Linked DNA regions of Homo sapiens. The protein of the gene in region 2 purifies or fractionates together with the protein of the main gene of each other region. This does not show direct contact. Each region holds a gene or a part of one and is shown on either strand. Other genes may lie near its edges.

What was found. Proteins that work in one complex are often made in the same cells at the same time.
Region 1: the proteins of SLC2A14 (region 2) and ADCY3 purify together in Homo sapiens (affinity purification with mass spectrometry; one large-scale study listed by BioGRID and IntAct). This does not show direct contact.

What each region holds. Positions count from the first base shown.
Region 1 is NC_000002.12:24,836,738-24,840,237, reverse strand, and holds part of ADCY3 (adenylate cyclase type 3), read left to right. Parts: intron 1-206; coding exon 207-365; intron 366-1,325; coding exon of another isoform or gene 1,326-1,391; intron 1,392-1,615; coding exon 1,616-1,793; intron 1,794-3,192; coding exon 3,193-3,321; intron 3,322-3,500.
Region 2 is NC_000012.12:7,831,416-7,834,915, forward strand, and holds part of SLC2A14 (solute carrier family 2, facilitated glucose transporter member 14), read right to left. Parts: intron 1,400-3,500; coding exon 1,307-1,399; intron 350-1,306; coding exon 189-349; intron 1-188. UniProt on the Homo sapiens protein: Hexose transporter that can mediate the transport of glucose and dehydroascorbate across the cell membrane.

The sequences.
Region 1 (3,500 bases), on a different chromosome or scaffold from region 2:
CCTCGTCCTGCTGGCCTGTGATGCCTGACTCTGGGCTGGCCCTGGCCTGCCTTACCCCCCACCCAACACCAAGCTGTGGGGACCTTGCCAGGCCCCCTCTTGTGGAGGGGAAGAGGCCCACAATGAATTTCTCCTGCAGGAGCAGGGGCAGCTGGCTGCCTCGTGAAGGCCACACCCTGACCCTCCTTTCTGTGTGTACCTGGCAGGTATGTGCGGGAGAAGACCAAGACTGGGGTGGACATGCGTGTGGGGGTGCACACGGGCACCGTGCTGGGGGGCGTCCTGGGCCAGAAGCGCTGGCAGTACGACGTGTGGTCGACTGATGTCACTGTAGCCAACAAGATGGAGGCCGGCGGCATCCCTGGGTGAGTGCCATTCCAAGGGGGCAGGTTTGAGGACTGGGGAGGGGACCGTCCCCTCCATCCCCCAGGGCTGTGACCCTGATGAGGGACAGGGGGCCTCAGAGAAGGCCTCCCTACAACCCCGGAACAGCATTCCTCCTGTCTCGCCCTGGTCCTGGCCCTGGCTAAGGCCGTTCTGACCTGCCTTGGGGTGAGGCCTCTTTGGGCCTGATATTGGATGTGGCTTTTCCTTCCTGGACCCTGCAGTAGCCTGTCCTCCTGTCCCCTTTACCGACTTAGGGGGCTGCCTCCCCTTTACCCACTAAGGGGGCTGCCCCAGCTCTCCTTATGTCAGAGCCCAGGTCTCCCCAAAGGGAGAGTAATGAGCAGTCATCAGCTAGCGGGCTCGCAGGCAGCGTTTTGCAGGTCGCAGTGCGATTACACGCCTTACTTGAGCTCCCTTACAGGATAATGGAGGCCCTGCCTTTAGCAGGGCGAGGCTGAGGGAGGATCAGCCCAGCCTTCCCCATCTGGGCCAGGGAGCTTCCTTCAGTGGCATTTAGGATTCTTGGCCTCAGTGGTGACTCCTCAGAAACAGGTTTTATTATCTCTTGGCAGCAGGGGTTGCAACTGAGAAACGTGCAAGGTGGGGGATAATTGGATCTTGTGGCTCACGCCTGTAATCCCAGCACTTTGGGAGGCCGAGGTGGGTAGATCACCTGAGGTCAAGAGTTTGAGACCAGCCTGACCAACATGACGAAACCCCATCTCTACTAAAAATACAGAATTAGTCGGGTGTGGTGGTGTGCACCTGTAATTCCAGCTACTCTGGAGGCTGAGGCAGGAGAATTGCTTGAACCCGGGAGGCAGAGGTTGCACTGAGCCAAGATCAAGCCACTGCACTCCATCCTGGGCGACAGAACAAGACTCTGTCTCAAAAAAAAAAAAAAAAAAATTCCTTATCGCATTTGATCTGCTTTACAGCGGATCAAAGATTGAAGAAAGATTGTACTCCTGTGTCGTGGCTCCAACACTGAGGCTGAGATGGGAGTAAGTGCCATACGGCCCACACAGCTAGTTAGCGGCCCACACAGCTAGTTAGCGGCCCACACAGCTAGTTAGTGGCAGAACTGCCTCCACTTGGCCTCTGCCCCACATGCCCGAGAGACACGGGGCCGAGCAGCAGCCGGTGCAGCCGTGGTCCGTGGACTGTCCCCTGGGGGTGTGAGGGCCACCTCTGGCCGACGCTCAGGGCCTCTCTCTCTGCAATCCAGGCGCGTGCACATCTCCCAGAGCACCATGGACTGCCTGAAAGGGGAGTTTGATGTGGAGCCAGGCGATGGGGGCAGCCGCTGTGATTACCTAGAAGAGAAGGGTATTGAAACCTACCTCATCATTGCCTCCAAGCCAGAGGTGAAGAAAACAGCCACCCAGAATGGCCTCAATGGCTCGGTGAGTTCCCCACCCCACCCCACCCACCCCACCCACCCCACCCCTGGATTAGGGGGTTGGAAAGGAGGAGATTAAGGAAAGATTGCAGAAGAGGTGGCAGGACCCAGCAGTGGCTGGCTGTGAGAGGTGAGTGGCAGGCTGGCACCCTTCCCAAGGGAGAGCTGGTTTCTGGGGGAGATGGTGAGTGTAATTCATGGCAGGTTGCAATGGAGGTGACTGAAGCATATCCCAAGACCACATCCAGGAGGGGGCCGCTGGAGATGTGTCGGTGGCGCCCAGGAGAGCAGCTGGGTTGGGGCTCAGGGTCTCCTGCATGGAGGAAGTGAGTGAAGCCACAGGAGTGACGTGGATGCTCAGGGAGAGGCTCAGAGAGGAGGGTGGGGGTGGGGTGACTGGTCATGGGGGAGGAGGACCAAGGCCAGGAAGGTTTCCTGAGTGGGAAATGAGGGAGGAATGAGATAGAAGTAATAGAGCAGGGGTGTCTAATCTTTCGGCTTCCCTGGGCCACATTGGAAGAAGAAGAATTGTCTCGGGCCAAACAAAAAATACTGTGGGTTGAACAAGCTTGCAATCGTGCATCCTGTGGGCCTGCCCTCTGGTCTTTTTGTGGGATCCCCCGAATATCTACAGACCTGAAGCACTCAGCAGCTTCCCCAGGTCTGTCCACCAACCCCCAAACACCTCCTGTCAGTCTGATTAGAAACCACCAGCAGCTGTTGCAGAAATGGATCCCTTTACCATCCCCTGCTGAATCTGGAGGTTGTCTTATTTTTTGTAATCTCATGTCAAAACCCTTTCCTCCAGTTATGAGAGTCCATCTAACAAGACTTGGAATTAAGGAGCTTGGTGACTGTCAGGGAAGTCGTGTCATTTGAGACTGCTCTATGGCTGAGGCTTTGCCTAATTATGGCTAAAGCAAAGCCCACTCTGGTGAGGCTGCCGGAGTGAAGGCTGATACTCCCCGCTGATTCTAACCTCGATGTCAGTCTCATCCAGTGTCATTTTAAAGGCTGTCTCTGACAACTCCCAAATTTGTATCTCCACCCCCAGTGTCTTCCCTGCACTCAACATACAGCCACTTGTACGTCTCCATTTGTACATATAATAGGTATCTTAAATGCCACCTGCCCAAAGCTCCTGCCCTCCTTCCCACTCCATAACCTGCTCTCCCTCGGTCTTCCCATCTCAGTTAATGGCAGTTCCATCCTTTTATTAACAACTGCTCAGACCAAAAAGTTTGAAATCATCCTTGACGCCTCACTTTGCAATCCACAAGCAAGTTCTGTGGCCTCAGATTGCTCTCTAATCCCACCGCCTCCCACGCCCTTGTCACTTCCAGACCTGTCCACGCCACTCTCATCCCATGCCCAGATCATGGCTGAGCTCTCCTTTCCTCTAGGCCCTGCCCAATGGAGCACCAGCTTCCTCAAAGTCCAGCTCCCCTGCCCTCATTGAGACCAAGGAGCCCAACGGGAGTGCCCACAGCAGTGGGTCCACGTCGGAGAAGCCCGAGGAGCAGGATGCCCAGGTATGTGCAGGGCTCAGGGCAGGGGGTCACTGAGGGCCAGATGCGGGCAGGCACCAGGAAGCAATACGTTCCTGCAGCAGGAGTCCTGTGCTGGGGAGACCTGGCCACCACCCAGGACCTGCTCCTGCTTAGCACTGTAACCATGGACAGGTCACCCCTCCAGCCCCGCAAAACCCCAC
Region 2 (3,500 bases):
GAGCTCTCCAGGGTAGTAGAGCTCCAAGCAAGGGCAGTCATATTCGGGGCCAGTTGGGCTAGTTTCCCTTGATTAGAATTCAAGGTGTTCTTATTCAAAGGCATCATCACCTCCCTGCCCTAACTCTCCACACTTGTCCCCAATGCATCTGGTAGAGCCCACTTCCTTGCCCAGTTTCTAGTCAATACCTGCCAAAGCGGTTAACAAAGAGTCCGACGGAAAAGGAGCCGATCATACCCCCGACGGAAAATATGGCCACAGACAAGGACCAGAGATTCGTGAGCAGCACCTCAGAGGGAGGGGCATTTGCCTTGTCCGTCAAAGTTTTATTGATAAATTCCTTTATGATCTGCAAAATAAAAGGTGGGAGGACAGACTATTACAGTTGGATGAGAACAAAAGATACAAATATGCTGGGTGCAGTGGCTCACGCCTGTAATCCCAGCACTTTGGAAGGCCGAGGCGGGTGGATCACCTGAGGTCAGGAGTTGCAGACCAACCTGACCAACATGGTGAAACCCCGTCTCTACTAAAAATACAAAATTAGCCAGTTGTGGTGGCGCATGCCTGTAATCCCAGCTACTCGGGAGGCTGAGGTAGGAGAATCGCTTGAACCCGTGGGGCGGAGTTTGCGATGAGCCGAGATAGCGCCATTGCACTCCGGCCTGGGTGACAGAGCGAGACTACATCTCAAAACAAACAAACAAACAAAACAAATATTAGGGATCATTTCCTCCCTAGAGAATCAAGGGAATAAATAGACGGGAATTGAAGAGGCAGATAACATATTGGAATTAATGTTAACTCTCCCTGGAATAGTAATTTTTCATTTGTCCTGAATATCCCAGTAGGTGGCAGCACTGATGTTCACCCCAGCCCTCTGCTAAGCGAACCTGGCCAGCTTGGTAACTAACCCCTAAGGGATAATACAGGAAGTGTATTACTATAGGGTGAAAGAGTGGGAGGAAGAACAGCACTGCCCAGGGTATAAGGAGTAAATGACCTTTTTCCTTTGATTAAATGACCCCACTAATTTTCCCCACCAATATTGTCTCCATCTTCAGTCTTGGACAGGATAGATACAAAGTTTAATTCCCCTAGTTGGGGGAGGGACCCTCACTAACTGTGTTGCTCAGGATGGTGTTTAACTCCTGGGCTCAAGTGATCTTTAAGCCTCAGCCTCCGGAGTAGCTGGGACTCCAGGCAGGTGCCACCATGCCTGGCCTTAAATTCTGAATTCTTGAAACCCTACTTAAAGGAATAATTTCCCTATTCCAGATTCTAATTCTTGTGGCCTGGCACTCACCGTCTCAGGAGCATTGATGACCCCAGTGTTGTAGCCAAACTGGAAAGAGCCGATTGTAGCAACTGTGATGGCAAAGATCAGAGCTGGGGTGACCTGGAGAGACAGAGGACAGGGAGGAGAGAATAGTCCTTAAAACTTGTAATTGATGACTGTTTCTTATTAATTATGGAGCTGTATTAGGAGAATCTGACCTATGAGTGGTATGAAAAGGACAAACATCAAACGAGATTTAGGTAATTAATCGGGAAGACAAAGTAATAGATTATACTAAAGAACTTATCTGGAGATAAGAATGTGAAGTTAACTTGGTAAAAGTGGAAAAGAAAATTGGAGAAGGAAGAAGTTAAGAGAAACTGGGTTGGTCAGTTTGGAAATATTTAAAAACCTGCATCAGGTGAAGGTAGGCATAGAATTCCACTCACGAACTGGGAGGAAAGAGGACAACACAGCCTTGGGTAGGATTACTAAGAATTGATCATTTTGGAAACAAATACAGTGCAGTCTGATCTGTACCCCAGACTCCACGGAAGCCCAGTGGTGGTGGTAGGGGGAGGTGGTAGTAGTTTGTGTCTTCACTGCTGGGTGGCTCTTTGAGTCTCTTATCTCTCAGGACCATGTAACCTACTGGATCTACTCACTGCATCCTGGCCCCATTTCAGTCTTCTGGTTTATTAAATACTGTTCTGCTATCCCTAACCTAACCCCCGGGTGGGGGAAGAAAGAACACTCGGCTCACTACAAACCTAACAAATAAGACATTTCTGGCCGGGCACGGTGGCTCATGCCTGTCATCCCAGCACTTTGGGAGGCCAAGGCAGGTGGGCCAAGGCAGGTGGATCACCTGAGATCAGGAGTTCGAGACCAGCCTGGCCAACATGGTGAAACCCCATCTCTACTAAAAATACAAAAATTAGCAGGGCATGGTGGGGTGTGCCTGTAATCCCAGCTACTAGGAGGGGCTGAAGCAGGAGGATCGCTTGACCCTGAGAGGCGGAGGTTGCAGTGAGCCGAGACCGTGCCACTGCACTCCAACCTGGGCAACAGAGCAAGACTCTGTCTCAAAAAAAAAAAAAAAGAGAGAGAGAGACATTTCTTAGTGGGGAGAACCAGTCGTCTTCACCTTGCCTGGAATAATTCAGCTGGGCAAGTGGATATTATTTTAGATTTCCACCTTGGGGCAGCTCAATTTCTATACCTGAAGCCATCTTCTATGTCCTTTCCCGCACCCCCACCAATCCCTTCAACCTTTCCTATCTTAAATTCCTTTCCTTTCAGGTCAGACAGGGTAGACCACAGGCTGAAAGCTTCAGTAGAACTGACCTTGCCTGCGGCCTCTCAGATGTCTCAGTCACAACTAAGCATCGATACCCTGGAGGGCCCTGCCAGTACAATGCTCTCTGTTAAATCTTTTTCTTTTTAGTAAAAGTCCTTTCTTTCTCCTCTCATCATTCACTATCTTTGAGAGCCTTTTTTTTTTCATTAGTCTCATAACTTTCCATCCCTTCTCTTATTTTCCTTCATTTTCTTTCTTTTTTGTAGAGATGGGATCTCACTGTATTGCCCAAGGCTGGTCTCAAACTCCCAGCCTCAAGTGATCCTCATGCCTTAGCTCCCAAATGCTGGGATTATTTTTAAAGGTTACAATTGGAATTAAACTGAGTCTTGAGAATCTAAAAAATGTGTTGACCTGGGCACAGTGGCTCACATCTATAATCCCAGCCCTTTGGGAGGTCGAGGCAGAAGGATCACTTGAGCCTAGCAGTTTGAGAGACCAGCCTGGACAACACAGTGAGACCCCTTCTCTCTCTCTTTTTTTTTTTTTTTTGAGACCCCTTCTCTATCAAAAAAAAAAAAAAAATTAGCTGGGTATGGTAATGGCAGGTGCCTATAGACCCAGCTACTTGGGAGGCTGGGGTGGGAGGATCACTTGAGCCCAGGAGATAGAAGCTGCAGTGAGCTATGCAGCCTGGGCAACAGAGTGAGACCCTGCCTCAAAAAAGAAAAAAAAAGTGTGTTGAGCATATTGAGACAAGTGTTCCTTGGGCAAATGGCACCTAGGAGGAACCTGATGCTCAAAAACCAGTTCTGCACTGGGCTGGCCCCCAAAGCAACAGAGATGTCCAAGCTTAGATAGTCCTTCACCCTGGCCACTAGAGAAGAGTTGCTCAATATAACTGTTTGTTGATGTGCTTCG